4 linked regions of the Homo sapiens genome follow. The protein of the gene in region 3 interacts with the protein of the main gene of each other region in a biochemical or structural test. Each region holds a gene or a part of one and is shown on either strand. Other genes may lie near its edges.

Region 1 (7,806 bases), on a different chromosome or scaffold from region 3:
TTCAAAAAATAAATGCAACAGAACCATTCTCTGATTACAGCAACAGACCCACTGTGACGGGGTTTATTTATAGGTGAGCAGATAACTGCTTTTACTCTGAAATCATCATCGATGTCAACCATGGCCGACCAACTTTCTATAAGCTGTATTTGAGTGACCTCGTGATTAAGGACAAAATTGTGCTACAGCAGCAGTAAGCTCTGAAAGTTTACATGTATGAACATGTTTAGTGATATAAACTCATTTGAGAAGCCAAAGGGTGTCCTGGTTGAGTGCGTGGGTCTCGGGGGCCAGACTAGCTGGGTTTTTCATAGTGGTCTCTGCTTACTAGCTACATGACCCTGAGCGTTAGGTAAATTACATAATTCTCTGTGCCTCAACTTGCCTCACCTGAATAAAGAGGATGACTATAGGGTCATTGTGAGAATTAAATGTGAAGTAGAGAACTTCGAAAATGCCCAGGCCTTAGAAGGCTCTTACAAAACATTTTTCTATTATTAATATTGATGTGCAGTGGGACCGGCGGTTGGTCAGTTTCTCTGTCTCAGTTATTTAATCGGTAAATGTTGAGGTTGGATTAGGCAATGTCTTAGACCCCTTTGGTAACATTTTATCATTCTCTGAAAACACATAAAGATTGACTGGGAACAAGTGTAACTGTGATTGTGCTGTGTGGCAATTGTGTGTGAAGGAGAGGCAGTTTTACATGAATGTAGTAATTTGTGCTGATTTTAAACTAATCACATTTTTACAGTTTTTAATCTTCTCATGTTGTTTATTCAATATCTAATCAGTGTCACTATCAACAGTTCTCCTCCATATCAATCCTTGTGTCCTACAAAACACACAGGGAGGTACGTATGTGTGCCACACACAGGCACACACAGCCCTCAGACATAAAGGATCAAAAGTGGAGAGAGAGATCCATGAATGGATGTTGCTTCTAAAGAATCATTGTGTTTCTTTTGCTTCTCTCTCTCTCTTTCCCACTTCCCCATCTTAAACCGCGCAAACAGAGGCAAAGTCTGGCAATTGCCATGAACTTGACCCCACCCCCACAAATATAACCTTGTTCAGTTTAGCAAATAAAAATACAGAATGCTCAGTTCAATGTGAATTTCCAAGCAATAGTGATTACTTTTTCACTATATAGCAGTACTTGGGACATACTTTTCTCTGAAATCCAAATTTCACTAGGCCCTGTTATTCTTTTTGGCAACCCTACCTACAATCTGAGTGTTTTTTGTTGTTTTTTTTTTCTGAGACGGAGTCTCGCTCTGTTGCCCAGGCTGGAGTGCAGTGTCACGATCTCGGCTCACTGCAAGCTCCGCCTCTGGGGTTCACGCCATTCTCCTGCCTCAGCCTCCTGAGTAGCTGGGACTACAGGTGCCCGCTACCACGCCCGGCTAATTTTTTGTATTTTTAGTAGAGACAGGGTTTCACCATGTTGGCCAGGATGGTCTCGATCTCTTGACCAATCCGAGTGGTTTTTGATCAACACTTTCTGCTGCCCCATCCAATATCCTATCAAGCTCTTGAGATTCTCTGGGTCCCCAAGGACTCCCCAAAATGCAAAACTTGTACTTTAGGCATGAAAGCAGAAAACTCCAGATGGGGTGGGGGTACCATGAGAATGAACCCTAGGTCCCCCAGAGTACAGCCAGCTTATGGGTGAGGAAGAACATGGGAGCTTCACCTCTGGTCTCTGGTCGTCTGGCAAGGAGGAAGATAAGCTCAGCAGGCAGGCCGGTGCTCAAGCAGCAGAGGCTCCAGAGGTTGGAGCTGTAGTTAAAAGAAGGCAAAGAACATGCAAAGCAGGTACTCAAGAGGCTGTGGCTGAATTCAGGTAGTGGGACCCACCCCACTGTGTTCTTCTACTCCAATAGATGCAGGATCAGGCCCCTGGTGCCTGTAATTGGTTGCTTGTCCTTTCAGAGAGGGCAAGGGACATCTCAGCAAGACCCTGCAGTCATCTCTCTCTGTCGTTTCTCTATTCTCCATCCTTCAGACAACCTAAAAGGACGACTGATTCCTACTTTAAGCTAAATCCTCAACATCTCTGGCACTGAATTTTCTCTCTCAGGAATTGAGCTTAGCCTAAGAAGTCGGTCCCCAAGATTTTTATCATAATGGACAGTACTGAAGACATTTTCACCATGAGCTCGAGAGAAGCCCAGACTATCTACCTTCATTGGCAATTAGTTTTCTAGTTTAGAACAAATAATTTAACCTACAAGAGTACCTTTCCCATGATATGTAATATTTATGTATGTACATATAATTTAATTCACCTTTTTAGATCTCATTTTTACTTTCTACAAAATAGAGGGTTTTGACTGGTTTCTATTTCAAGTTGCTTTTAGCCCTAAGATTCAATACTTTTCCAAGGGAATGGCCCTAAATATTTTTGTAAATGCTTGATCAAAGCATTACATATGAGAATACAATTTAATGGACCTTAAAAAATGAACATATTTTAATTTCTACATGGAATGTAAAAGTTAAAGGAACATTTGGGGTCTGGCTCAAGCCACCTGCTTGAGACCATTCCTGTCTCCTCAAGTCCAGCTGTATTCGATTCACTCACAGCTCCCATGCCCTTCCCTCACCATCTTAATCACTATAGCAAGAACCCCAACCCCCACCTTCCCTGCCCTAGTTTTATTCATAGCTCTTATCACTATTGGACAGACTAAACCTTTTACTTGTTTATTTGCTTATTATTTGTCCATAACGGCAGAAATTATTACTTGTTTATTCGTGTTTGGTTTTTACTGTCTTTATTCTCTAGCACCTAACATAGTTTATAGGGTATTTTCCAGTCATTTCATATCATCTATGCTTGGCACAGAGAAGGAACCCATTAAATATATGTTGAATAAATAGGTTTTATTCTTCCTCTAAAGTCTATTCAAAAACATCAAAAACAAGCAATATAGGTTTATTGTTAGATGTGCGTTTGTGTGTACTAAAACTAGAACAAAAAGGAGAGGAGTGACTATAAATACAAAAGTCAAAGTCATAGCACAGTGGGAGAGGCTAAATAAGGAGGTAGGGGTGTAGCCGAAAGGTAAGAAGCAGGTTATCCCTATTGTTCTTAGGTTAGGCAGTAGTTGTGTCCATGTGTTATTAAGCAAATTAATTAAACAAAGGTCATCTATGGCTCAATGACGATAGTGTGACAGTGTCATGAACCAAGGATTGTGATTAATTCAATTCTGTGTACCCAGGATACTTTTTTAAAAACATATAAATTCTTTAAGACCAGGAAGAGTGGCATTTGTCTTTTATCTGCTACAGCATGTGACAGAAACAGTTAGCAAGATTGTGTCAAGTTGGCTTGAACCAGATTGAATGTGCTCTACTCTAATTGGATTAAATTGAAGAATAACAGAAGTGCAGGGCAGAAGCAAAATACTCCACCCAGGGTTAGAATTTTACATGCTTCAAAAAAGCCAAACCTGAATAGGAGATGCTAGAACAGGCTGCTTTTCATTTCCTTTATTTTCATCTAATTAGCAAGGCTTCCCGAGCATCTAATGAATGGTGAACAGGTACCCCACATCTCTGTCCAGATCAAGGGGGAGGAGCCAGCAGGTGCATTTCACAGGTCTCTGCTTTCCTGGTTCCATTCCTTCTGTCCTGTGGGCCAAGTCACAGTGGGAGCCCATCTGGGACTCCGTGGTCTTGGGAATATGTTTATATTCCCAGGGCTCTCTGGGCCTCTGTTTCCATATTGGTAAAATGACTCATGGTCTTCACATCCTCATACTTCTATGAGGGAAAGATCTTTGTAGAATTATTAAGGGTTTCTTTCTGAAAAGAAGGAAATTAGTGAACCTTTATTCACTGTGTGGAAATGGATAACTGGATCTGGTGGCATGTGAGTTGCATAAGAGTTCTTGCTTATGCGTGGAGTAGTTAAAAGTTTTCGATGAACACAAATAGGATTAATAACAACAACCATGACCATTAGCCCAATAATAGTTTTGCAGCCTTACGACGTTAGTACTTTGAATTTCTATTTTATTAGGCAGATAATGCTTATATGTTTCAGAATAGCTAGTAAGTCAAGCTGTCAAGCTTTACGTAACGAGATTTGGATCATTATTCTTAGATAAAACAGAAAGAGGTGTCCAATTTTTGTTAAAATAAAATGTATCATTTATCCCCAGAAATTTAGAATAAATAAAACTGTTTTGTGACTTTTGTTTTTCCAGAGCATAGCAAAATGAAGGGAGAATAATGTCTTTCTTTTCTCCTGCTGGTGAGGGAAGATAAGTTCTTTCTTTTCACTATTGGGGTACTTCTCTTATGAGTACAATCCCTCTGACTCATGGATGTTTGCTGTATTCAGCTACTTTAGATCACTAGAGAAGAAATTGAATTCAAAGTGAATTAAGCCACTGTAATATTGTGAGATGTATGTATTGGGTTCTCCTAGCTCTCACTTGGTTTGTGCAGCAATGATTAATGGATACACAGACCCTCAAATACTTAGTATGTCTTTATCAGCAATCCCTTCTGACACCTCAGTTTGAACTACTGCATTGAGTAAGTTTTCCCTTCTCAACTTGTATCTCCTTCCCCTTGGCCTCTTAAGTGGTACGAAAGCATCAAATTAGTTGTTTCTCATAAAATATGGTCAAATAACTCCAGGCAATATCCTCATTTCACAGATGATGTGAAATGACTAGAAAATACCCCATAAACTATTCTGCCTTTTCTATTTCCGGAAACACTCTCCTTAGGAAGCCAATCTTGTTTTCTGCTGACTGGTTGGGCTGGTTTTTCAGTCCTAGGTAAAGTTCCACAAGGAACTTTCTGTTATTTATTTGAGACTTACTGCCCTGTCTGGAGCTTCTAAAAAATGATTTCAAAAAAGTTAAATCCAGAAAATGCTGTTCAACATTAATTGAACAATAGTTCAATAGTTCTCCTCAATACATTATATTTTTTGTCATTTGTGTTCTCTTTCTGTCCTGGTCCAGTTGCATAAAGATTTTTACAACGTGATAATCAGAGTATATACATAAGTTTATACTCAGCCTTTTTATCGTTAGTATAATAGCATAAATATTTTTCAAGCGGCTACATAGCAACATAGTTTTTGCTTTAAAGACTGTATAATATTCCCCCAAGTGAGTATATAGTAATTTACTAAACCTTTTCCACTTGTATTGGAAAATTAAGCCAGTTATAATCTTTATATTATAAATAACACTACTATGAAAATCTGTATGCATAACACTACTGTGAAATCCTTCATGTAAAGAAAGAAAATATTTTCCTCCCTTTGGATTGTTTTGTAGGCTACTCATTATTTAGAGTAAATGCCTAAGTGTGGGAATAATGGATTTGAATATTTATGAGCTGTAATGATGGCTAGTGTTTTTGGAGCACTTACAATGTAACAAACTTAACTTTAGGCCTATTTCTATTTGGCGATGAATGCTTGTCCCTACTGTACAACTAACTCAGAGTAACCTTGGGTACTTACCCAATGGTGGCTGGTATCTGATGAGCCTTTCATACCTTTTCAGTAGAGATTGAAAAGGAAAATGAGTAACAGTTGCCTAATGCCTTTGGAAACTTCCATGTGGTCTGCTATTTAGGGACCACGTGTTACCAAATATGACTCATGCCTCATCAAAAGGGAAGAGAAGAGGACTAGGAGTTACTGAACCTATTATCTGTGGGCACCTTTATCATCTCATTTAATCCTTACAAAAATGTGATTATTCCTATCTTAGAGATGAAGAAGCTGAGGCTCAAAGATGTTAGACAACTTGGAGGCCAGGTATGAACGTATTTGTTCCACTGTCCCATGATGATTATCTCTATTATAACCTGCAGCTCCTTTCCTTCTTTCCCTGCCCCACCGCATAACCATACACACATACCTGACCCAGTAGATTTAATGTGCCTCTTTCTGGGCTACAACTCCAGGCATATATCCAATTACTGCTATCGTCCTTGATTTCCTAAATAGTGATTTATCAAACTAGTTGTTTCTAGTACTTAACCTATAAATTACACATGCCATTCCTACAAAGTCCCAGGGGTTTTAATAAAACTTGACTTTTTAAACTTCAGTTTATTTGAGAAAAAAAAATTAAGAAATTTTTGAAAGGCAACAAGAAGAAGAGATTTGCTCTAAGACATTAAACATAGTTATATAAGAAATATCTAGGAGTTAGTACCAGAAGTAAAACAGACAATTATTATCAGTGGATGAGAATTGTGTATATGTGCATGCATACACATATATACACTTATGTATATACGCATAGATTTAACCTCTGATAACAGTGGCTGTCCACTGTTTATCTACAATAAAATATGTAATGGGTTTGTTGAGAAAATTGACTATCTCTTTGGAAATAAGTAAATTGAGATATTTTATGATATACCTTAAAATAAATTCCGTATGGATTAAAGAGCTAAGGAAACCTATAAAATATTTGAAGAAAACAGAGGAGAATAATCTTTTCATCTCAGTGTAGGACAAGCCTTCCCAAGCTTATGGCCATGGCCAGGTTAGAAATAAAAATGGACATATTTGGTCACTTAAACACTTTAAAACTCCACATTAAAAAATCATCAAAATAAATTTAAAATCAAACTGTAGATTGAAAAAAATACTTGAAAATATACGTGAGACAAAATTATTAAAAGGACTTATATGAACAATAAGATTTAAAGCAAACAACCTAAGGGAAAGACAATTCAAGGGAGAAAATAATCAGTCAGCATATGAAATATACTCAACTCACTAGCGTTCAAGAAAATGCAAAGTGAAAGATCTAGATACTATTTTTTAAAAACTTCAAATTAGCAAAATTTTAAAATGTTGATAATATCGAGTATTGAATAGGCATGAAGACATAGATACACCTATCGTGTTGGTGAGCTATCCATACTGTAAAGTCTTAACAGATACAATTTTATCACAGTTTATAATGCCTAACCTAAAAAAGATGGAAACAGCATAAACATCATCTGTAAGGGAACGATTCATTAAATTACAATATATTCACAGTATAGAATACAATAAAACACAATGCAAAGCAAAAAGAAATGATAAAATTCTATATGAACTGATGTGAAAAGATCTCCAAAACGTAGAATTAATTTTTTAAAATTCAGGTTATAAAACAATCCGGCAACATATTTTCATTTATGTTTTTTAAAAAGTATTGGCCAGGCACGGTGGCTCACACCTGTAATCCCAGCAATTTGGGAGGCCGAGATGGGTGGATCACGAGGTCAGGGGATCGAGACCATCCTGGCTAACAGGGTGAAAACCCGTCCCTACTAAAAATACAAAAAATTAGCCTGGCACTGGTGGCGCAAGCCTGTAGTCCCAGCTACCTGGAAGGCTGAGGCAGGAGAATCGCTTGAACCCAGGAGGCGGAGGTTGCAGTGAGACGAGATCACGCCACTGCACTCCAGCCTGGGTGACAGAGCAAGACTCCGTCTCAATCAATCAATCAATCAATCAATCATATTTATATATAAGTACACAGAAAAAAGAAGTTTCAAAGATATAAGTAGAACTGTTCATTATGGTATCCATGGGTACAGAGAGCAAGACCTTATCTTTCCTTTACCATTTGCATCTTTTAAAATAAAACTGTATTCGTATCTACATAATTTTTAAATACGCCTAAAACATAAGAAGAAATTGACATCCTAATAGTGGTGGGGAAAAAAAAACGTATCTGTAAGTCTTTAATAAAGTAGGCAAAGATTTAAGTGAAGATTTAGAGGACGTGGACACTAAATAAAATTTGATTACATATT
Region 2 (8,064 bases), on a different chromosome or scaffold from region 3:
TTGGCTGCTTTAAGGTAGAACCGAGCTGTTGTGGAAAATGCTGATGCTTATTTAGCAACTACAGTGTGTCTACGATAGAAGGTTGAGGACAGTAAAAAAAAAAAAATGGCTTTGGCCGGGTGCAGTGGCTCACGCCTATAATCCCAACACTTTGGGAGGCCGAGGCAAGTAGATCACGAGGTCAGGAGATGGAGACCATCCTGGCTAACAAGGTGAAACCCCCGTGTCTATTAAAAATACAAACAATTAGCCAGGCGTGGTGGCGGGTGCCTGTAGTCCCAGCTACTCGGCAGGCTGAGGCAGAATGGCGTGAACCCGAGAGGCGGAGCTTGCAGTGAGCCGAGATCGTGCCACTGCACTCCAGCCTGGGCAACAGAGCAAGACTACGTCTCAAAAAAAAAAAAAAAAAAGAAAAGAAAAAAATGGCTTTGAGGTTTTAGACTGAAGTATTAGAAATGAATTTTGAGAAAAAGATATAAAGTGGACATTTTCACTGGGTACTTTAAAGGAATATTTTATTAATTCAATTATGATATCGTTATTCTTTTGATTGAAAAGCAGCCAACGTCTTCTTACATAGTTAAGTCAAAACTCTTCATTTTAGTTTCAAAAAGTGTGGTATTAACAATGATCTTCAATGATTTCATCAGATATAAAAGAGAGCTGGCCGGGCACAGTGGCATACGCCTACCATCCCAGCACTTTGGGAGACCAAATCGCTTGAGGTCAGGGGTTCTAGACCAGCCTGGCCAACATGGTGAAACCCCGTTTCTATTAAAAATACAAAAATTACCTGGGCGTGGTGGTGGGCACCTGTAATTCCAGCTACTAGGGAGGCTGAGGCAGAAGAATCATTTGAACCCAGGAGGCGGAGGTCACAGTGAGCTGAAATCACACCACTGCACTCCATCCTGGGCGACAGAGCAAGACCCTGTCTCAAAAAATAAATAAATAAAATAAAAGCTAAAGAAAAAAAATCCCCTAAGACAGTTATTAAAAATTATGTGGTTGCTTCATGCCTGTAATCCCAGCACTTTGGGAGGCCAAGGGGGGAGCTTGAGCTCAGGAGTTCACGACTGGCCTAGGCAACATGTTGAAACCCTGTCTTTACCAAAAATACAAAAAATTAGCCGGGTATGGTAGTGCGTGACTACTCGGGAGGCTGAGGTGGGAGAATGGCCGGGAGATGGAGGTTGCAGTGAGCAGACACCACATCACTGCACTCCAGCCTGGGCAACAGAGTGAGACCTTGTCTCTAACAAAAACAAAAACACAACAAAACAAAACCAAACAAAACCTTTTATTCTTGTTACCTATCAAAAAAAAAAAAGAGGCTAATTACTTGATTTTCCTTCTTACAGGAATCCCGAGTTTTCCACAATTGCAATTTTTAAAGTTTAAAGTTATAACAAAGGAAGAAAACACTTAACTGGTCCAAATGAAGGTATTTGATTTTTGAGGGGGTAAAGGCTGAAAACATAATTGATTCTATTTTAACACTTCAAAGATAGACCAATCCCTGTCCTAAATTGAAAGGGAGCATGTTGAAGTAATGTATTAAGGAAAGGAAGTCTCTATTAAATAAAACCTTTTCCACCCTAAACATGTTTATAATACACACAGTCCAGTTGCTGTGGTGACCCATAGCCCAACTATTTTTCAGAGACAGTAGCTAAGACCCAAAAAAACACAAAGTCTCCAAATTTTCTTCAGCCTGCTACTTAAAAAACCAAGTTATGAATGTATCAAGCCTAGTTTCGAATCAAAATACTCACCGTTGTCAAAAAGTAACCAAAAGTAACATGACGTTTTTAACTACACAGGCTCCTAAAAAATACTCTTTGTATAGGATCCTGCACAGTTCTTACAATATTCTTACAATAAAACTTAAAGACACTACCTCACTAGGAATGAACAGATTCCACTTACGCAGTTTTAATGTTTAAGTAAAATCAAAGAGAAGAGTGTTCCTGAAGGGAAAATATTGAATCATACTACATTTTAATGAAAACACCGCTGCCAAACCTAAATATTGAAGCACCAAGTTTTCCAAGCCAGGGGGTGTAGGGGGTGGGAAAAGACGACAGAGGATCTGATCTATCAACCAAAGAGATGGACAAACCATTCTGATGAGGCATAGAACTCCAGAATCTTTATTTAAATTCCCCAAATTTCAAATAGCAATAGCTGGAGAAAAAGTGAAGTGTGTACTTTTGACTACTTCAGTCAACAACATCCCTATTTCCTTCCAAGGCCAGTTACTATCCCGCCCCGAAAGATGTTTCCAATTGATCTTCCCAGGAATGAAGTTACCAGCCTCGATGCAGCTGTGCACAAGGCGGAAAGTAAAGAGGGGCGGGGGGCCGCTGGAGCGAAAGAGAAAAAGAAATGAAACTCGACACCGGATGACTAGCGAGCTAGGGGAGAGGAAGAAACGCGGACGGCCGCGTGTGCCCTACAGGAGATCAAAGTCTGGGGGAAGAGGTGCAACCTCACCGGGCCTTGGTAAGCACTGAATTACTGTACTTTCATTTTCCAACTTCCTGTCACTACAGAAAATGAGAATTGCTCCCCTCCTCCCCATCCACGCCGAAAAAATCGCCGCCACCTTTCGCCCACGAGACTTCGGGGGACCAAGAGGCGACGAGAGCTGAGCGGTGCGCTGCGGCGTCCACCTGTGCGCCGCGGTGCCCGGCGGGCCGGGGGCGGACCCAAGGGGAGCGCGCGCGCCCGGCCCCGGCCCCCGCCCCCACTTCCTGTTGTGCCGCGCGCCCCTCGGCCCCCGCCCCCGCTCCCGGCCGGTGGGGCTGTGGCCGCGAGATCCCGAGGGGGCGCGCGGGGCTGACCGCTCACCGACGCCGCGCGCGGGGCTCCCCCTCGGTCTCCGCCTCGAACACGATGCGCCTCTCCGCCCTCAGCCTCCTCCTCACGCTGGAAACTCGAGGACGGCGCGGCAGCCGCTGCGACCCCCGCGGCGGAGCCGTAGAAGGCGGCGGCGGCCAAGCCGAGCCCGCCGGGTGCCCGCAGCCGCCCGCATCTCCCGCCGCCGCGGCTCCTGGCGCCCCGCCCTCCCCGCCCCCGCACGCGGCAGCGGCGGCGCGGGTCTTGGGGCCGCTACACGCCGGGCGCGCGCGTTCGGGGCGTTCCTTGCAGCGGCGGGGCCTGCCAGGCCCTCCGCGGCCGCCGCCACTCTCAAACCCCCCGACTGCTCCTGGGTCCCTCCCAGACGCCGTAGTCGCTACACGTCACTTCCGGGGGAGGGGCTGCGACCCTAAGGGGTGTCGTGAGCCGCGTCTGCCAGCAAACCCGGGTTTGGTGTGGCCGGGGGATGTAGCTCGGGCGCCTCCTGGAGTCGTCTCGCCGCTCTCCGTCGCGTTCGGTGCGGTTGCTTCCAGGTCCCTGAGGCGCCCGTCCGGAACCCGCCAGGACCCAAGCTGCCGCCTGGGCCGGGACCTCGGACTCCTCAAAGGCGCGCCACTTTCTCCTCGGTTGGAGGGAAGAGGTGGCGCTCGCAGAGCAACCTGCGGGGGACCACTTCTGTTGGTGCTAAGCTTTGGGGAGAGTCTCCTCCCTCCTGTGTCCCTCGTCCTCCTTACCACTCGCTGTTAGAAGTTGGGGCCGTCACAGCTTTCTCATCGAAGTGCCAGATCCCAGGACACTACAAACGCTTGATAAATACTAAATTAGCACTGTGGCTTTCTAGCCTGGGGACTGACAAATGGAAGCGCTGGAGTCGTGGGAAAAGCTTGCCCTGACGATGGAGGCAGCGACCAGAAATCCATTCGTGGCTCTACCCCTCACTAACTCACCAATTTTAAGCAACCTTAACCTCTCTAAAACAGTCATCATTTATAAGGTGGAGAGAACCCAATCTTAGAGTTGTTGTAATGATTAAAGAAAATAAGGTGCATGAAACACCTAGCAAGAGTTTCTAGCTTAGAGGTTCTCATTAAGTAAAATTCTTAAGGAATCAGGTCACACTTGATACAAGAGGCTACTTGAGCAGTTTAGCACCAGAAGGAATGTAAAGTCATAAATTAGGACAGCTGAACAAAACCTCCAAGAAATAAATTAGGTGTTTGTTTAACAAGAAACCAAAGAGAGGTCAGTGTCTGAGTTACTGGTTATTCGAGGCCATTTACTAGCTGTGTGACCTGTAGTGAGTTGCTTAACCTTTCTGGACCTCAGTTTCCTCATGTAAAATGACGATAATGAGCAGCATTGCTGAGAGGATTAAATGAAGTATAGAGCATAATGTACTTAGTGCATTACCTAGCACATAGTAGATACCCAGTAAATCGTGGTGTCATTTATTTTTGCCCCCACAATTGAATGTATAGTTAATTGAACTCACTGAGTGAAATGTGATTCTGTCATCCTTTTGTAGGCTTTTGGAAGAGAATCATCACTTCCTTGATTTCCAGCCTCCTCTTCCATAATACAGAGTAATTATAATCCACAAAGGTAGCTATTCCTGTAAAAACAACTCTACCAAAAGATGTTACCTTTCCAAAATTAGTTTTACCAAAGCATGCAAACATATTAAGACATGTTTTATAAGGAACATGCAGTATCTGAAAAGCACTAGCAGTCTTGGCCCCTAACATAAAATTTTCCTTGCAACAAGTTCCATCTTGGAAACCAAGAAAAAAAAAAGTATTAAGGTAGGCTGTTTAGGATACACCTATTGGAAACATTTGTTTATAAAAAGATTTCATTTTAAAGCCCCCTACCAAGAACAGTTAAGGGTTGTGGAGATCTGCACACTACGCTGCTCTGTTCAAACTGGCAGTAAACATCTGATTCGGCCTTAGGGCCAGTAGTTGTGTCATATCCCTTTTAGACTGAGCTTACGGCATTGTCAATTGCAGTGTATTTTTGGAAAACAGCCTGCTTTGGGAGTTCTTAAATTAGTCATAGCAAATCTGTCTGCTTTTAAATTGACTTTTTTTTAAGGCGGTACATATTGACAGAAGAGAAAGGAAGAAAAGTGGATTTCTAATTAGAGAACTTGAGGGGAAAAGTTAATTAATGTGCCTGGTTTTCCCACTCAAGATTCTATAAATACACAATCTCTCTCCATGGTTCCTCACACAACAGATGGTTCTGTTTGTGCAAACTCCATGGTAGTTACGTTGGTCAACCAAAAAGACTGCTTTTTCGTTATCTTGTTTGGTCACTTTCCCACCAGATAGATGGATTCCTGATCTTAGCCTTAGTTACTCAGAGCCATCCCAAAGAAAATTTGTAGATTTTATTACAATGTTTATTTATTTTTTTGAGACAGAGTTTCGCTCTTCTTGCCCAGGCTGGAGTGCAATGGCGCAATCTCGGCTCACCGCAACCTCCGCCTCCCGGGTTCAAGCGAGCCTCCTTCCTCAGCCTCCCAAGTAGGTGGGATTACAGGCATGCGCCACCATGCCCGGCTAAATTTTTTTGTATTTTTAGTAGAAATGGAGTTTCTCCGTGTTGGTCAGGCTGGTCTCGAACTCCTGACCTCAGGTGATCCGCCCGCCTCGGCCTCCCAAAGTGCTGGGATTACAGGCGTGACCCATCACGCCTGGCTTAAAATGTTTAAATATGTATTTTCTACCTGGCCTGCCCTAGATTTTGTTTTTTGTTTTTTGTTTTTTGTTTTTTTTTTTGAGACAGAATCTCACACAGTCACCCATGCTAGAGTTACAGTGGCACAATCTCGGCTCACTGCAACCTCCGCTTCCCGGGTTCAAGCGATTCTTCTGCCTCAGCCTCCTGAGTAGCTGGGACTATAAGTGTGCACCACCACGCCCAGCTAATTTTGGTATTTTTAGTAGAGACGGGGTTTCACCGTGTTGGCCAGGCTGGTCTCAAACTCCTAACCTCGTGATCCGCCTGCCTTGGCCTCCCAAAGTGTTGGGATTACAGATGTGAGCCACCGGGCCTGGCCTAGATTTTTTTTCTTAATCACTGCAGTTAACTCAGCTCTGCAACCCCTTGCCCCTAATTTAATTACATTTCCTATCCCAATAACACCTAGTTATGATCATTACTTCTCAAGGCAACTTCCTCTTCCCTCTCTTTATTTCACTGCTTCATCATTACTCCCAGTCACTATCCCTTTTTCCTAAAGAAGTGTTTCACGGATTTTTGACTGACTAAGCAAGCATGGAGCCATCCAGTTGCCTGTTACGTCTTTCAAGCAATATCCTGTAGCACGTGACATTAAGAAGAGATATCTTTTAAGTCAAAGACAGCACCCACAACCCCAGGTGGGGACAAGTGTGGAGCAAATTGCAACATGACTGAGAAGAAAGAATAAAAATCTGGGATATCTGGGTTCTAGCCTTTGGGTCTCCCTAAACTCAAAACTTGAACCTCCTGAGAAAATCCTTGCGACTTACCCTTTCTGGGTTTCACTTTCAACATCTTTAGAAATAAAAGAGACATACCTTTCACTTCATGTCTGTAATGGATAGACTAAAAGAAAAAGGCAGTAGGCTGGTTGTGGTGGCTCACACCTGTAATCCCAGCACTTTGGGGGGCTGAGGCAGGTAGATCACCTGAGGTCAGGAGTTCAAGACCAGCCTGGCCAACATGGTGAAACCCCATCTCTGTTAAAATACCAAAAAAATTAGCCAGGTGTGGTGGCAGGCACCTGTAATCCCAGCTACTCAGGAGGCTGAGGCAGGAGAATGGCTTGAACCCGGGAGGTGAGGGTTTCAGTGAGCTGATACCGTGCCACTGCACTCCAGCCTGGGTGACAGGAGCGAAACTGCGTCTCAAAAAAAAAAAAAAAAAAAAAGCGGTTGATCAAATGATGCTTTGAACTCTTGGTAAATAGCCCTATTGCTGTTATATTTGTGTGGACTGAGATCTTAGATAGAGGTAAAGTTATCTTTGAAAAGAAAACTCTGGCTAGCTGTATATTGAATCTGGCAGCACTGGCAACCCCTACTACCTGTTAAGGTCCTAAACTTTACCAAATATAACCAGTAAACGTTTCATCCCCAATAATAAGGCTTTTAATCAGAGGGTATTAAGGGTCCGGAGAAAACCCAATCTGAAGGTCATTGAACAAGGTACTTGTGGCCTCTAGACTGTGAAGTAAACTCATGGCAACATCTTTCAGGACTAGCTGTAATCTCCACACAATACATTGTTTTTTCAGAGAGGACATGACGAGACATGAGTTATTGCAATTACCGCCTGAGGCATAGCAACTGTCTAATATGTTTGATGACCTGTCACAAACACAGGTCAGAAAATAGCTTCATATAATTTTCATTCTTGATCTCTACACCCAGTCTACTTATTTTCTTTTAATATTTTTAACCTCAAGTAATTTTATTGGTCTTTGATAAATGTATTATTTCTAGACTTATAAAAATTGATATGGAATATGTAATAGAGAAAGAAGAGAGAATATATCAATTTTTTTTTGAGACAAAATCTCACTCTGTCACCCAGGCTGGAGTGCAGTGATGGGATCTCGACTTACTGCAACCTCTGCCTGCCGGGTTCAAGCGATTCTCCTGCCTCAGGCACCTGAGTAGCTGGGATTACAGGCGTGTGCCACCATGCCTTGCTAATCTTTGTGTATTTAGTAGAGACGGGGTTTCGCCATGTTGGCCAGGCTGGTCTCAAACTCCTGACCTCAGGTGATCTGCCCACCTTGACCTCCCAAAGTGTTGGGATTACAGGCGTGAGCCACCTTTGGAAAAGGTGTTCCTTAATTGATAAAAGCTCATGAAATCTGCCTTTTGTATAATTGTTTAAGATTCTGGTGTTTGGACCAGCTCCTTGCAGAATACATATTGCTCTGAATTTTAAGCCAAAATAATTTTTCCTCTCTGGTGTATTTTATAATCACTGTCTGGAAAAAAAACTTCTTCAATTAAAGTTAATTAAGGAAGCACCAATATATGATACTATGCTGTTATTACAGAAGAAACTCAAAGAGCATTTGCTCTTCTAGGAATTCTGAGTCTTGAATTGGCAACACTGACACCCTCAGCGACCATCATTGCTGTCCACGACTTCCAGCATTTTCAGAATTCTTTTGCTATCCCGTTGACATGAACAAAG
Region 3 (7,806 bases):
GCCCATGATCACCAGTGAGACCGGCAAGGCACTGATTCAGACCTGCCTCAACTCGCCAGACTCTCCACCCCGTTCAGACCCCACAACAGACCAGAGAATGAGTGCCACTGGCTTTGAAGAGACAGATCTCACCTACCAGGTGTCGGAGTCTGACAGCAGTGGGGAGACCAAGGTGTGTTTGGGTTGCCTATGTGAGAGGAGGGAAGGGAGTGGGGTCCCTCTCCCTTTCTGGCCCAGGACAGGTGGATAGGTGCCCACCGATGTGGAGTGGAGCCGGATTAACGACCCTCGTCCTAGGGGACAGGTGTCCATCCTCACTTTCCTGATAGAAGACCGCCCCCCTAGATAAGCGGGCGGCCTCCGTGCCCATATAAGGCCGGCTTGGGCTCCACGCCGGCCTCCCGCCCGCAGCCCGCCTGCCTGGCAGGGCCTTTGCATTCCTCCCGCCAGCTGTCTCCCCGCTAGGGGCGGGGGTGTAGTTTAGCCCGGCCCTCCGGGCTGGGTCGCCAGGGAGTAGAAAGGGAGCACTCCGGTCCCGGGGTCCTGGGAATCCAGCACTCTTGGCAGGCGGGCTGGTTGACTGGGCCGGGGACTACCTTACAAGCCAGCCGCTGCCCTTTCAGGGTGTTGGGGGCCTGGGCAGTTAGGGAGCGCATTTGCCTGCTGCTAGGGATGCCTGCGCTGTTACTCCTCCCCCTTCCTTTTCCCGGTAAGGAGAGGGGGTGGGGCTTCCTCCCTTGCTGTCTGGGGAGCTCCACCTTCCGGGTGGCACTTAACTGACTGGCCAATGGGAGGAAGCGGCACTGTTTGCCTTAGCAACGCCTCTGCCAATCAAGGGTCTTGGGCCCAGCTGCTTTGCAAACGTCTCGTGCTGACCCACCCCGCAGCCTTTGAGCCTCTGGTTGACTCATTTCGGGTCTGGGCTTGGTGGCTTGGTTCTCAGTTTCCTTCTTCCCCTTCTAAGAACGAAGTCTTCCTTAGGGGAGAGTCAGTGCTGTAGGCTACCTCCTCTCTTAGTGGCATATCATCTGTAATAATTTTTAAACTTTTATAACAGTAGGGCTCATTTATTCCCAGGAAATTTTGTTGGATGAGTACATTCTTTTGGTAGTTTACATCTTGGGTGTTTGACATATAGTGTGTCATTGCCAGATTCTCAAGATCTCTCTCAAACTCTTAAGTTCCCTGAGAAACTCAGTTCCTATCTCAGAAGCCTGACAAATTAGAGCTGGAAGAACTCTTTGAAAGAAAACGTAGTAGCCCAGCCCCCTCATGCTTATAGAAGAGGAAAACCGAGGTTCAGAAAAGGGGACTGGTTATTTCAGGGTCACTTAGATGGTCATTACCAGAGCTAGGAACAGACCTTGGTGTCCTGACTCCCCAGCCAATGGGATTACCACAGTCCGCTGGAGCAGAGAACTCAGGGGATTATAATAATGACAATGATAATAATTATCATAAGAGCAGCAAATATTTATTTTGGTTTTTTTATGTGCCAGGTAGTGTTTTCTAAGTGATTTACATATGCTAACCTACTTAATCCTTACAGCAACCTAGGGGGTAGGTATTATCCTCCTTTTACCGATAGAAAACTGTAGCTCAGTAGATCAATAACTTACCTAAGAGTCAGGCATCAGGTAAATGGTGGCGTTGGGATTTGAACCCAAGCTCACTGGTTTCAGTCTGGGTTCTCAGTCCACACAAAGCTTCTGCAAAGGCAGGATCTGGTAGGGGCTCATTGCTTCATCTTTACTCTGGGTATAGGACACACTGAAGCCGGCGTTCACAGTCACCAACCTGCCGGGTACAACCTCCACCATCCAAACAGCACCTAGCACCTCTACCACCATGCAAGTCAGCAGCGGCCCCTCCTTTCCCATCACCAACTACCTGGCACCAGTGTCTGCTAGTGTCAGCCCCAGTGCTGTCAGCAGTGCCAATGGGACTGTGCTGAAGAGTACAGGCAGCGGCCCTGTCTCCTCTGGGGGCCTTATGCAGCTGCCTACCAGCTTCACCCTCATGCCTGGTGAGTCACGAGGGGCAGGGAGAGATTCGTCCTTCCTGGGGCAAATCAAGCATGCTAAGAGTGTGTTTAGGGCTGGCACCAAGAGAACCTCTTTCCCTGCTCAGAAGGAAGGTGAATAGGGGCCAGAGCCTGAGCGAAGCCTCTTATATCCCGTTGGCAGGCATACCTCTGCCCACTGAGACCCCTGCTGTCCTTGTCAGTAAGTTTCAACCATATATTCTGGCCCTGTCTAGCTACCCCAGCCCCGTGCCCTCATTGCCACAGGGCAGTAGATGTTTCACCACTTCCTGCCTTGACTGGAAGGCAGATCATGTCTTTGATGGGTTATTGCCAGCTCTTGGGTCAACTGAAGAAAAGAGAGACAAGGCCCAGGGCAGGAGGAGGAGGGATGGGCAAGAGTAGAGCGTGGAAGCCCCCAGAGTGGATACTTGGGCCTGAAGGGCCTCTTTGGCTTCCAGGAAAGATAGTGATGGGAGTTGGAGACCAGTGTGCCAGACCCTGGGACTGGGGTGTCCATGGGTACTTGGTGGAGGTGGCAATTGGGTGGGACAGAGCACAAATAAGACTCTGTGTCTTGCAGGTGGGGCAGTGGCCCAGCAGGTCCCAGTGCAGGCCATTCAAGTGCACCAGGCCCCACAGCAAGCGTCTCCCTCCCGTGACAGCAGCACAGACCTCACGCAGACCTCCTCCAGCGGGACAGGTATAGCTCGCAGCCCTGTCACCCTCCCTCCCTGCCTTCCCCCACGAGGCCTAGCAGTAGGTGCCCAACAGTAACCCTCCTGTAACTAAAGTCAGGGGATTTCTTAAAGTGGAGATTGAGGCTTTGGGCCTAATAATTATGGGGAAGTCAGGTGAGGATGACTGGGTTTTGAATCCCGCCCTGCAGTGGGCTGCGGATTCCAGAAGAAAATTGGGGACCATTGACCTACCTCCTCATTCAGATGAGGAGCCTGAGGCCTAGAAATAAGAAGTTACTTGCTCAAAGACACATTTGCTTAATTATCAGGAAGGACTTAGAGAGCAATTTTCTCTTTGTGCGAGGGTCTTACAGGTTTTGAGTAGCCACAGTTACCCTCAGGTATCTCTAGACATTTCAGAAATGATGAGATACTCTCAAAGTAAGGTTAATTTTAAGTTCTTATTATTTATAACCTTTTTACTCAAAGTGTGGCCTATGGACTGGGAACACCAGCATTACCTGGGAGCTTGTTGGAAATACAGAATCTTGAGTCTCACCCCAAACCTAGTGAATCGGAGTCTGTTTTTTTTTTTTTTTTTGAGACGGAGTCTCGCTCTCTGTCGCCCAGGCTGGAGTGCAGTGGCACCATCTCGGCTCACTGCAAGCTCTGCCTCCCGGGTTCACGCTATTCTCCTGCCTCAGCCTCCCGAGTAGCTGGGACTACAGGTGCCCGCCACCACACCTGGCTAATTTTTTTGTATTTTTAGTAGAGACGGGGTTTCACCTTGTTAGCCAGGATGGTCTCGATCTCCTGACCTCGTGATCCGCCCACCTCGGCCTCTCAAAGTGCTGGGATTACAGGCCTGAGCCACCGCACCCGGCCCAGAGTCTGTGTTTTAACAAGATTCCCATATAATGCACGTTAACATTTGAGAAGTGCTTGTTTGAAAGATGAATTTGTTAGCTGTGCATTAAGAAGGAGAGAGAGGCCGGGTGCGGTGGCTCACGTCTGTAATCCCAGCGCTTTGGGAGGCCGAGGGGGGCAGATCACGAGGTCAGGAGATTGAGATCATCCTGGCTAACACGGTGAAACTCCATCTCTACTAAAAATTCAAAAAATTAGCCGGGCTTGATGGCAGGCATCTGTAGTCCCAGCTACTCGGGAGGCTGAGGCAGGAGAATGGCATGAGCCCAGGAGGCGGAGCTTGCAGTGAGCCAAGATCGCGCCACTGCACCCCAGCCTGGGTGACAGAGTGAGACTCCATCTCAAAAAAAAAAAAAAAAAGGAGGGAGAATGAGAACAAATAAAAAATAAGATGTTAGAGCTCCTAAAAGGGGAGTATCTGAGTTTTCTGAGAGTAGGTCAGTCATAATCTTTGTTTTTCCCAAGATTTAGGACTTAGAGAATTCAGTAGATAGACAATTGAATAAATAGTACAATGTGATAGGATACAATTAAAGATTGATGCTGTTGTGTTCAAGAAAAAATAGGCTTTTCTTAGTTGATGATGGAGCTGAGGAATAGTCGTGTCTAGCTTCTGACCTGGGAAATGGCAAGAGGGCTCTGGGGGCCTGGAATTCCTAGGGACGGAATGGGAGTTATCAGTGGGGACCAGTGCCGAGCTGACACATGTCTGTGTTTGCCAGTGACGCTGCCCGCCACCATCATGACGTCATCCGTGCCCACAACTGTGGGTGGCCACATGATGTACCCTAGCCCGCATGCGGTGATGTATGCCCCCACCTCGGGCCTGGGTGATGGCAGCCTCACCGTGCTGAATGCCTTCTCCCAGGCACCATCCACCATGCAGGTGTCACACAGCCAGGTCCAGGAGCCAGGTGAGTAGAGGAGCAGGGCTAAGGAAAGGAGGACCGTTTCCTTCTTTATACACACACACACACACACATACACACACATATGCACTGATGCCTACAAATATTTCTACCCAAATACAACACAGACTTGGATGCTCACACACACATTTGGACACCCCACTTGGACACTCACACCCGCATGCACCCTCAGACACACTGGCACCCTTTCCCTTGGGCTCTTACATCTGAGACTGCCCCAGTCACTTGTGCATTTGACACCACTCCTCCAATATCTGGAAGTTTCAACAAACAATTTGAGTATCTCCTGTGGTTTTCCAATGTAGGTGGCGTCCCCCAGGTGTTCCTGACAGCATCATCTGGGACAGTGCAGATCCCTGTTTCAGCAGTTCAGCTCCACCAGGTAGGTAGGGATATCTTTCACCCCATCCCAGATAGCCACTTCTTTGTCTTGACCTTAGGGGATCCTGTTACCAGTTCATCAAAGCCAAAATCCCTAGCCTGGAAGCCCATCTGCTTTTCTGCTCAGGCCTGTGGTTGGCAGGCAGGGAAGCCAGGGGAGCCTGAACTGGCTGGCCAGTCCCTGCCCCTCCTCATACATCCCCTTCCCTCCAGATGGCTGTGATAGGGCAGCAGGCCGGGAGCAGCAGCAACCTCACCGAGCTACAGGTGGTGAACCTGGACACCGCCCACAGCACCAAGAGTGAATGATCCGCCCGCCGCCCTGGACAGATGGCCCAAGGGATGGCACCACTTATTTATTGTTGCCTTTTCACGTTTTCTTTACACACACGTTGACGGGCCGCAGGAGGGAGGCGGGGAGGAGGAACGGGCAGCCACAGGACTGAGCCCTCTCACTCCAGCCAAAGAAATGGGCCTGCCTGCCTCCACCCGTCCTCCCTCAGCCTCCCCTTCTTCCCGCCCCACCTCCCATTTCTGTTGCTGGAGGGGCTGTCCTCCTTCCTGGGACCCCCTCGCCAGCTTGGCTCGATGTTTGCCATGAGTATTAGCTTACCCAATGGGACCGTGCCCCACCTCCCCACACACAGGCCTTCTGTGGGGCTGGGCACCGTGTCCTCCTCTGAGGAAGCAGTTGGGGCCCTCTTGCCAGCCTCCTTGCTGACCCCAGGTCAGCCCTGTGTCTGTCACAGGCTGGGTCAAAAGAGCCCTGGCTCTGCCCCTCAGGGGGCCAGCTGGGGAGATGGGGGCTTCTTCCTCACACTGCTGTCCTCTCCCCCTTCAGCTCCTGAGTAGCTGGGCCTGTGCACTGGGCAGGTTCCTGGGGCCGCCTGCCCTGCCTTGCCGCTCCCCTTGGACCTCCAGGGGCTCCTGGGTTGGAGGGAACCACCAGCGTTCCCTTCTCCCCCTTGTCTTCCCCCCTCTCCTCCCAGCTGCTTTACTTAAAGTTGATTTTGAACTTTTTATTTGAGGAGACGAAGTGAAAACAAATCTATAAATATATATTTTTAAAATATTTAACTTTTTTTTATGGCGTTTTTCTCGTCCCCCTCCCTGCCCAAACTCCCCTTCCCTGGGGAGCCCTCAGGCTCCCCAGAACTGGCTGGGCCCCTGGGGACAGAGCCACCCCATGAGCTCGGGGTCCACCAGTGTGTGGGGGAGATTCTGGGTTTGCCCAGTCCTGGGTTGTTTCCAGGAGAAAGCCGGGGGAGGGGCCCTCAGGCCATTCCCCAACGGGGTGGGGAGGGTGACCCACAGCTCTGGGCCTCTTTTTGCCCTTTAGGGCTGTTGCTAGGGAGAGGGAAGAGGGAGACCAAATGTCGGGGTTGGGGTGGGAGGGCGTCAGGCAGAGGCAACTGACTTCATTTGTGCCACACGCATGGGCATTGCAGCCTTGCGCTGTCCCAGGCATGCAGCTGCCTGGGGCCCAAGTTGCAGTGAGCAGGGTGGGGTCTGGGAGGGGGTGAGAGGCAGGAATGGGGGTCAGAAGAAGTGGGAGCAGCTTCTTGGGCTGAGTGCAGCCAAAGGGGAGCCAGAAATGGGCAGTTCTCCCAGGGAGTGAGCAGCTACTGTAACTTTTTTAAATTAAGACAAAAAGCCTTGAAGAAAATGACTTTATTTTTCTAAGTGTAACCTCAGTATTTATGTAATTTGTACAGGGGCCATGCCCCACCCCCCTCCTCCCCCTTTGGGGTAGACCTTGAGGGTGGGCCAGCATAGGGGGGAGGGTCTTTTACCCTGTGTCAGAGCCTACCTTCACCACCTATATCCAGAAGGGGAGCTTTTTCAGAAACAGGGCAGCAGTGGGGTGAAATTTTCTTAACCCCTAAGACTGCCTTCAGTAGGAACAAGCTGGCTTCTGTGATTAGGTGAAGGGATGGGGGAAGATTTTATGCACAGCCTAGTTATCAAGGGGATGATTTGCCGACATGTTTGAGAACCCCCTAACCTCTAACCCTCATTGCTGTCTTGCCCCAGTTTGGGGTGCCAAGATGGAAGTCACCTTTCTGGGCTTTCTCCTGGAGATAGCTGGGGCTTATGGGTGGCTTTCAAGGCTGGGGCATGGCAAATCAGGGGCCAGAGAGCAGGGGAGCTTGGGACTCAGGTCTGTAACTGCCCAGCCCCTTTTCTCTGCTCTTGTTTCACTCCACCATCACTCACTCACTCCCCACTCCCCCACCCATGGGGAGGAGACCTTTGATGAATTCTTCCTCTCCTTCCCACAAAAGACAGACCCAGTGAGTGAATCAGGCAAAGTGCTTATAATGTGTGTTGTGTGAGCGTGGCCTTGGGAGGACATGCGTGTGTCAGGGATGAGTTGAGGTGATATTTTTATGTGCAGCGACCCTTGGTGTTTCCCTTCCTCGGTGGCTCTGGGGTATGTGTGTGTGGGTGTGTGCGCCTGAGTGAGTGTGTGTGCTTGAATGTGAGTGTGTATGTCAGTGGTTTCTACTTCCCCTGGGATGCTGACCCAGGAATAGTGGACATGGTCACAGTCCTATGTACAGAGCTTTCTTTTGTATTAAAAAAAAATACTCTTTCAATAAATGTATCATTTTTGTGCACAGACTGTGGGGTCTTTGGTTCTGTTTTTCTACTTAGGGAGGGATGGGGGTATGAACGCGAGGCAAACTCCTAAAATTGCTGCTCTGAGTAGCGATCCGGGCTGCTTGATGAGAACGGTAATGCTAAGGTGTGCTTTGGGCTGTTTAATTCTATACGATTTAATTTAAGGAAAGTTTTGCGGGGCCGAGGACCTTCTCCCTGTGCGTGGCTTCGCTAGGTGTTAAGGCCAACGCAGAGGAGCAAA
Region 4 (5,614 bases), on a different chromosome or scaffold from region 3:
TCATGGTGGCCCACCCTGTCTGCTTGGTTTCCAGGAGGTGCACTATAAGAACCGCTTCTGGCATGACACCTGCTTCCGCTGTGCCAAGTGCCTTCACCCCTTGGCCAATGAGACCTTTGTGGCCAAGGACAACAAGATCCTGTGCAACAAGTGCACCACTCGGGAGGACTCCCCCAAGTGCAAGGGGTGCTTCAAGGCCATTGTGGCAGGTACTGCCTCCTTCCCACCCCGGGTTCCCAGGGAGGAGGCCCTGAGGGCAGACGTGATGTGGGCTTGCTTATCATGGTGGGGCTAACGTTGCTCTGAGCTGCTTTGAGATCTTAGCATATATATGTACACATATACATACACGTATATATGCGTACACATATATGCTCGCACACACGCACACACTCGGAGACTAAAGAACACTGGCGAGAACAGCCTGTGGCAACAGAATGAAGTGAACAGTATGTAGCGCTTTCTCATTTGGGCGTAGTAAGTGATGAAAGCATGCTTCTTCCTCAGGGTGTCATTCTGGGCCAGGCAGTCCCTGATTTAATGTCTAAGTGCACGCAGGGTATAGAGGTGGGGGAGTGGGGGATTCAGGCACTGGATCCTAAAATAATAATGCTGGGGTCCCCACCCATGACAGAAATCCTGGGTTGGCACAAGCACAAGTAGAACACAGGTAGGTTAGTTGGAGGTGTGAGGCCAGTAACTGCAGGGCCTGCATCCCCTCACCTCTGGAGGGCCTGGGGAGGGGAGCTGAGTGGATGCAGCCCCCTGCAGAGCCTGTCAGTGGGGCTATCCAATTGCTTCCCTCTGCAGGAGATCAAAACGTGGAGTACAAGGGGACCGTCTGGCACAAAGACTGCTTCACCTGTAGTAACTGCAAGCAAGTCATCGGGACTGGAAGCTTCTTCCCTAAAGGGGAGGACTTCTACTGCGTGACTTGCCATGAGACCAAGTTTGCCAAGCATTGCGTGAAGTGCAACAAGGTATGCTTTCAAGGGAGTTCTGCATTGACCGTTGTTTCTAGAAGTGTTTGACAGTTTGCAGAGCACTTCCACACACACTATCCCATTCCATCCTCACGACAGCCCTGTGACGTAGGAATTATTATTCCCGTTTTACAGATGAGGAGATCGTGGATTAGGAAGCAGTGCCACAGCCAAGTCAGGCTGTCAGTACGCATCCTCAGCCTGGTGGTGCGGGTGGCCCGTATGGCATGCTGAGCTGGGCAGCCCTGGCTCTAGAAGCCTGCCTCCACCACTTAGGGGCTGTGTAACCTCACATAGGGGCTCACCTTCTCCGAGCCTTGGTGTCTTCATCTGTAAAGTGGGGATAATAATAGCCCCTGCCTCCCATGGCTGTTGTGGAGATTAAATGAGATATTGTATACCAAAGCGCCCAGCACAGTGCCTGGCACGCAGTAGGCATTCAACAAAATGGTTGTTGAATCTGAATCCGGTGCTACACTCCCTGGTCTAGGCCATCACATCTGGAGGAATCACTTACCAGGATCAGCCCTGGCATGCCGATTGCTTTGTGTGTGTTACCTGCTCTAAGAAGCTGGCTGGGCAGCGTTTCACCGCTGTGGAGGACCAGTATTACTGCGTGGATTGCTACAAGAACTTTGTGGCCAAGAAGTGTGCTGGATGCAAGAACCCCATCACTGGTAGGCTAAAGAGTCCTTGCTAAGTCTGCCAGGCTAGGTTTTGCGCATGGTAACCATCTCTCATTTTCCTGTCGTCGGTTTCATCCACAAAGGCCCCCAGAGAATGCCCTTCTCCCCCTGCTATTGTGGTCCCAAAGGCCCCCCAAGAGTTTGGATTCGTCCCCAGGCCAGGTTAGCCTTTGCAATACAGAACACTTCCTGACTGTTGACTAACAATGCTGAGAGTTCACAAGCCTGAGACCTGCCAGCCAACACCGGCAGGCACTGCCACTTTGCAGGGGGATTCTGGGGGGAGGGGTGGGAGGAGGGTAGAAAGAAGGGGGTGGGGGAGGGTGGGGAAGGGGTAAGGGAGGCCGAAGAGTGATAACCCGGGATTGTAATACCCCATAGCTGAAGGCTAGTTCAGAGATGCCTGTTGGCAGGGTTTCTTTTTTTTTTGGTTTGCTGTTTATTTGTTTTTGCGATCAGCAAAGCTAATCACTTCATTCCTCATCTCGCGGCCGCGATCCACGTGCCCTGGGCCCTTTCCCTTGCCTCCAATTTTCCCATCTTCCCGGGGAGCCTTGAAATGTACATTTGAGAAGACTTTTGCCATCCTCAGGGAAAAGGACTGTGTCAAGAGTGAGCCACCCAGTCTCTAAAGCTAGGAAGCCCCCAGTGTGCCACGGGAAACGCTTGCCTCTCACCCTGTTTCCCAGCGCCAACCTCCGGGGCAGGCATCCGGGTGGAGAGAGGACTTGTCCCTCGTGGGTGGTGGTTCTTTATAGAAAAAATCGAAGCTTAGCAGCTCCTCGAGGCCCGGTAAGTGCACACCCCACGAACAGCCCAAGTTTGCCTCCTGGTGGCCACTTTGATGTCATGGCCCTGACCTAAATCAAAGAAACTGGTTATGCTGGGAGGTCGGTGCGCGTCACAGGGCAATAGCGTGGTGGCATGGGAACGTGGGGTCTTTACATCAGGGAAGCCCTTGGCCGGGCTTCAGCATCTTCTCAGGTCCTTGAGAGCCACAGCAGGGTTGCGGCGGCATGGGGGACAATGGCGGCGTGGGGGACTGTGCACGATGGAGTGGAGGAGGGGGTCTGGGAGCCAGGCAGACCTGGCTCTTGCGTGCTTGTCGGTCTGTGAGTGGGGCAGGTCGTCATTTTATCTCTCTGAATCGTGGTTTCCTCACCTGTATTCATTCAGCTGTTTCTCTTGTTTTCTTTTCTTTTCTTTTTTTTTCCCCCCAGGGTTTGGTAAAGGCTCCAGTGTGGTGGCCTATGAAGGACAATCCTGGCACGACTACTGCTTCCACTGCAAAAAATGCTCCGTGAATCTGGCCAACAAGCGCTTTGTTTTCCACCAGGAGCAAGTGTATTGTCCCGACTGTGCCAAAAAGCTGTAAACTGACAGGGGCTCCTGTCCTGTAAAATGGCATTTGAATCTCGTTCTTTGTGTCCTTACTTTCTGCCCTATACCATCAATAGGGGAAGAGTGGTCCTTCCCTTCTTTAAAGTTCTCCTTCCGTCTTTTCTCCCATTTTACAGTATTACTCAAATAAGGGCACACAGTGATCATATTAGCATTTAGCAAAAAGCAACCCTGCAGCAAAGTGAATTTCTGTCCGGCTGCAATTTAAAAATGAAAACTTAGGTAGATTGACTCTTCTGCATGTTTCTCATAGAGCAGAAAAGTGCTAATCATTTAGCCACTTAGTGATGTAAGCAAGAAGCATAGGAGATAAAACCCCCACTGAGATGCCTCTCATGCCTCAGCTGGGACCCACCGTGTAGACACACGACATGCAAGAGTTGCAGCGGCTGCTCCAACTCACTGCTCACCCTCTTCTGTGAGCAGGAAAAGAACCCTACTGACATGCATGGTTTAACTTCCTCATCAGAACTCTGCCCTTCCTTCTGTTCTTTTGTGCTTTCAAATAACTAACACGAACTTCCAGAAAATTAACATTTGAACTTAGCTGTAATTCTAAACTGACCTTTCCCCGTACTAACGTTTGGTTTCCCCGTGTGGCATGTTTTCTGAGCGTTCCTACTTTAAAGCATGGAACATGCAGGTGATTTGGGAAGTGTAGAAAGACCTGAGAAAACGAGCCTGTTTCAGAGGAACATCGTCACAACGAATACTTCTGGAAGCTTAACAAAACTAACCCTGCTGTCCTTTTTATTGTTTTTAATTAATATTTTTGTTTTAATTGATAGCAAAATAGTTTATGGGTTTGGAAACTTGCATGAAAATATTTTAGCCCCCTCAGATGTTCCTGCAGTGCTGAAATTCATCCTACGGAAGTAACCGCAAAACTCTAGAGGGGGAGTTGAGCAGGCGCCAGGGCTGTCATCAACATGGATATGACATTTCACAACAGTGACTAGTTGAATCCCTTGTAACGTAGTAGTTGTCTGCTCTTTGTCCATGTGTTAATGAGGACTGCAAAGTCCCTTCTGTTGTGATTCCTAGGACTTTTCCTCAAGAGGAAATCTGGATTTCCACCTACCGCTTACCTGAAATGCAGGATCACCTACTTACTGTATTCTACATTATTATATGACATAGTATAATGAGACAATATCAAAAGTAAACATGTAATGACAATACATACTAACATTCTTGTAGGAGTGGTTAGAGAAGCTGATGCCTCATTTCTACATTCTGTCATTAGCTATTATCATCTAACGTTTCAGTGTATCCTTACAGAAATAAAGCAGCATATGAATAACCTGCCTCCTGTCTTTTCATTCTGCCTGGTGGAATCGCTATAAGGTGATACTCCTAATCCAGAAACCTAAATGACTTATTTTCCTTCCAGGATATACTCACTTTAGTGCAGGCGCACAGAACATAGGAATTATAAACAAACCTGTAAAAACCACACTTGATTGATAAATAAATAATTAAAAACAAACAGAAACCACTCTGACCTAAAATAGTATTTCCCAGATTTTCACATCCCTGAAAAAGAAAGAAAACGATGAATTGGTTTGATTTGGCCAGGGGATTAGGGAGGGAATCCCTGATGAAGCATGGCACTGAGAAGCCATCTTGGTCCCTGTTTGTTGGGTGCTTCCTCGGTGTGCCTTTCCCCTTGTGCCCTCTGGAGCCTGGGGTCCAGGTTGAACGTGACCATCTCAACTGCGGCTGCCTCCACCTGCCAGCTGAATGACACCCTCGCTCCTTCTTGTGGATGTGGCTCACTAAGGAAGCTGCCCATTTGGGCCCATGCACTTCAGTTAGGGGGAACATGCAGGGATGCCGTGGGCAGAGGCAGGGGGTTGGCCTGGCATTGAGGCTCCCCAGTTGCCGCTGCTTCTAGACTAGCACCACACACCAGTGTCTTTTGTTCACCTCTGAGGCTCGTGTTCTTGGGTCATCCAACCTGCCCACACCCATGTGGCCCTTACGGCACAGCACAAGAGGCCCCATGCGACAGGTGTCTGCTGCACTCTCCTGGTGGAAGAGGCTTCAGACCATAAGGGCCCCTCGTCAAAGTACAAGCAGAACTGGGTGGGAGGAGGGGGTGTTAGTCTTAACTGGGCCACATGCTGAGGGTGATAAAAGCAAAGGACAGAAGCCCTTTGGTGCTAACGTTTGCCTTCTGAGAAGGGAACTGAACCTGTCAGCAAGAAACCATGAGCACTTTTAGGAATGTGGCACATCCCCTTGTGTGTGTTTCCTTACAGAAATTAGCCATGAAAACCTTGAAACCAATGAAGTCTGTCCAGTCATGTGGGGCCCCAGGGACAGTGAGGCTGGCTCAGGGGATGGGGAGTGGCTGCCCTCACTGCTCCCAAGGGAGTGGGCTGAGTTCCTGAGGCTGCAGCAAGGAAAGGAGCCCCACGGGGAGAGGGGACAGAAGACAGGCCTGGGATGGAGAGGGGGCCCCATCTGCCTTCACTAAGGGCTTTGGCCCCGGCTTATGCTCTCAATCCATTTCGGCTGAGCCCTGGGCCTTCAGCATCC

The links.
Region 1: the proteins of SRF (region 3) and MYOCD form a complex in vitro, tested with the Homo sapiens proteins (one study listed by BioGRID).
Region 2: the proteins of SRF (region 3) and ELK4 are reported together in a solved structure, tested with the Homo sapiens proteins (one study listed by BioGRID).
Region 4: the proteins of SRF (region 3) and FHL1 form a complex in vitro, tested with the Homo sapiens proteins (one study listed by BioGRID).

The regions. Positions count from the first base shown.
Region 1 is NC_000017.11:12,668,376-12,676,181, forward strand, and holds part of MYOCD (myocardin), read left to right. Parts: intron 1-3,486; exon of another isoform or gene 3,487-3,816; intron 3,817-7,806. UniProt on the Homo sapiens protein: Smooth muscle cells (SM) and cardiac muscle cells-specific transcriptional factor which uses the canonical single or multiple CArG boxes DNA sequence. Acts as a cofactor of serum response factor (SRF) with the potential to modulate SRF-target genes.
Region 2 is NC_000001.11:205,628,779-205,636,842, forward strand, and holds the start of ELK4 (ETS domain-containing protein Elk-4), read right to left. Parts: upstream 3,234-8,064; 5' UTR 2,854-3,233; intron 1-2,853. UniProt on the Homo sapiens protein: Involved in both transcriptional activation and repression. Interaction with SIRT7 leads to recruitment and stabilization of SIRT7 at promoters, followed by deacetylation of histone H3 at 'Lys-18' (H3K18Ac) and subsequent transcription repression.
Region 3 is NC_000006.12:43,173,942-43,181,747, forward strand, and holds the end of SRF (serum response factor), read left to right. Parts: coding exon 1-172; intron 173-1,764; coding exon 1,765-2,026; intron 2,027-2,606; coding exon 2,607-2,726; intron 2,727-4,352; coding exon 4,353-4,544; intron 4,545-4,864; coding exon 4,865-4,941; intron 4,942-5,153; coding exon 5,154-5,249; 3' UTR 5,250-7,565; downstream 7,566-7,806. UniProt on the Homo sapiens protein: SRF is a transcription factor that binds to the serum response element (SRE), a short sequence of dyad symmetry located 300 bp to the 5' of the site of transcription initiation of some genes (such as FOS).
Region 4 is NC_000023.11:136,206,982-136,212,595, forward strand, and holds the end of FHL1 (four and a half LIM domains protein 1), read left to right. Parts: intron 1-34; coding exon 35-209; intron 210-810; coding exon 811-980; intron 981-1,473; coding exon 1,474-1,660; intron 1,661-2,261; coding exon of another isoform or gene 2,262-2,461; intron 2,462-2,889; coding exon 2,890-3,044; 3' UTR 3,045-4,373; downstream 4,374-5,614.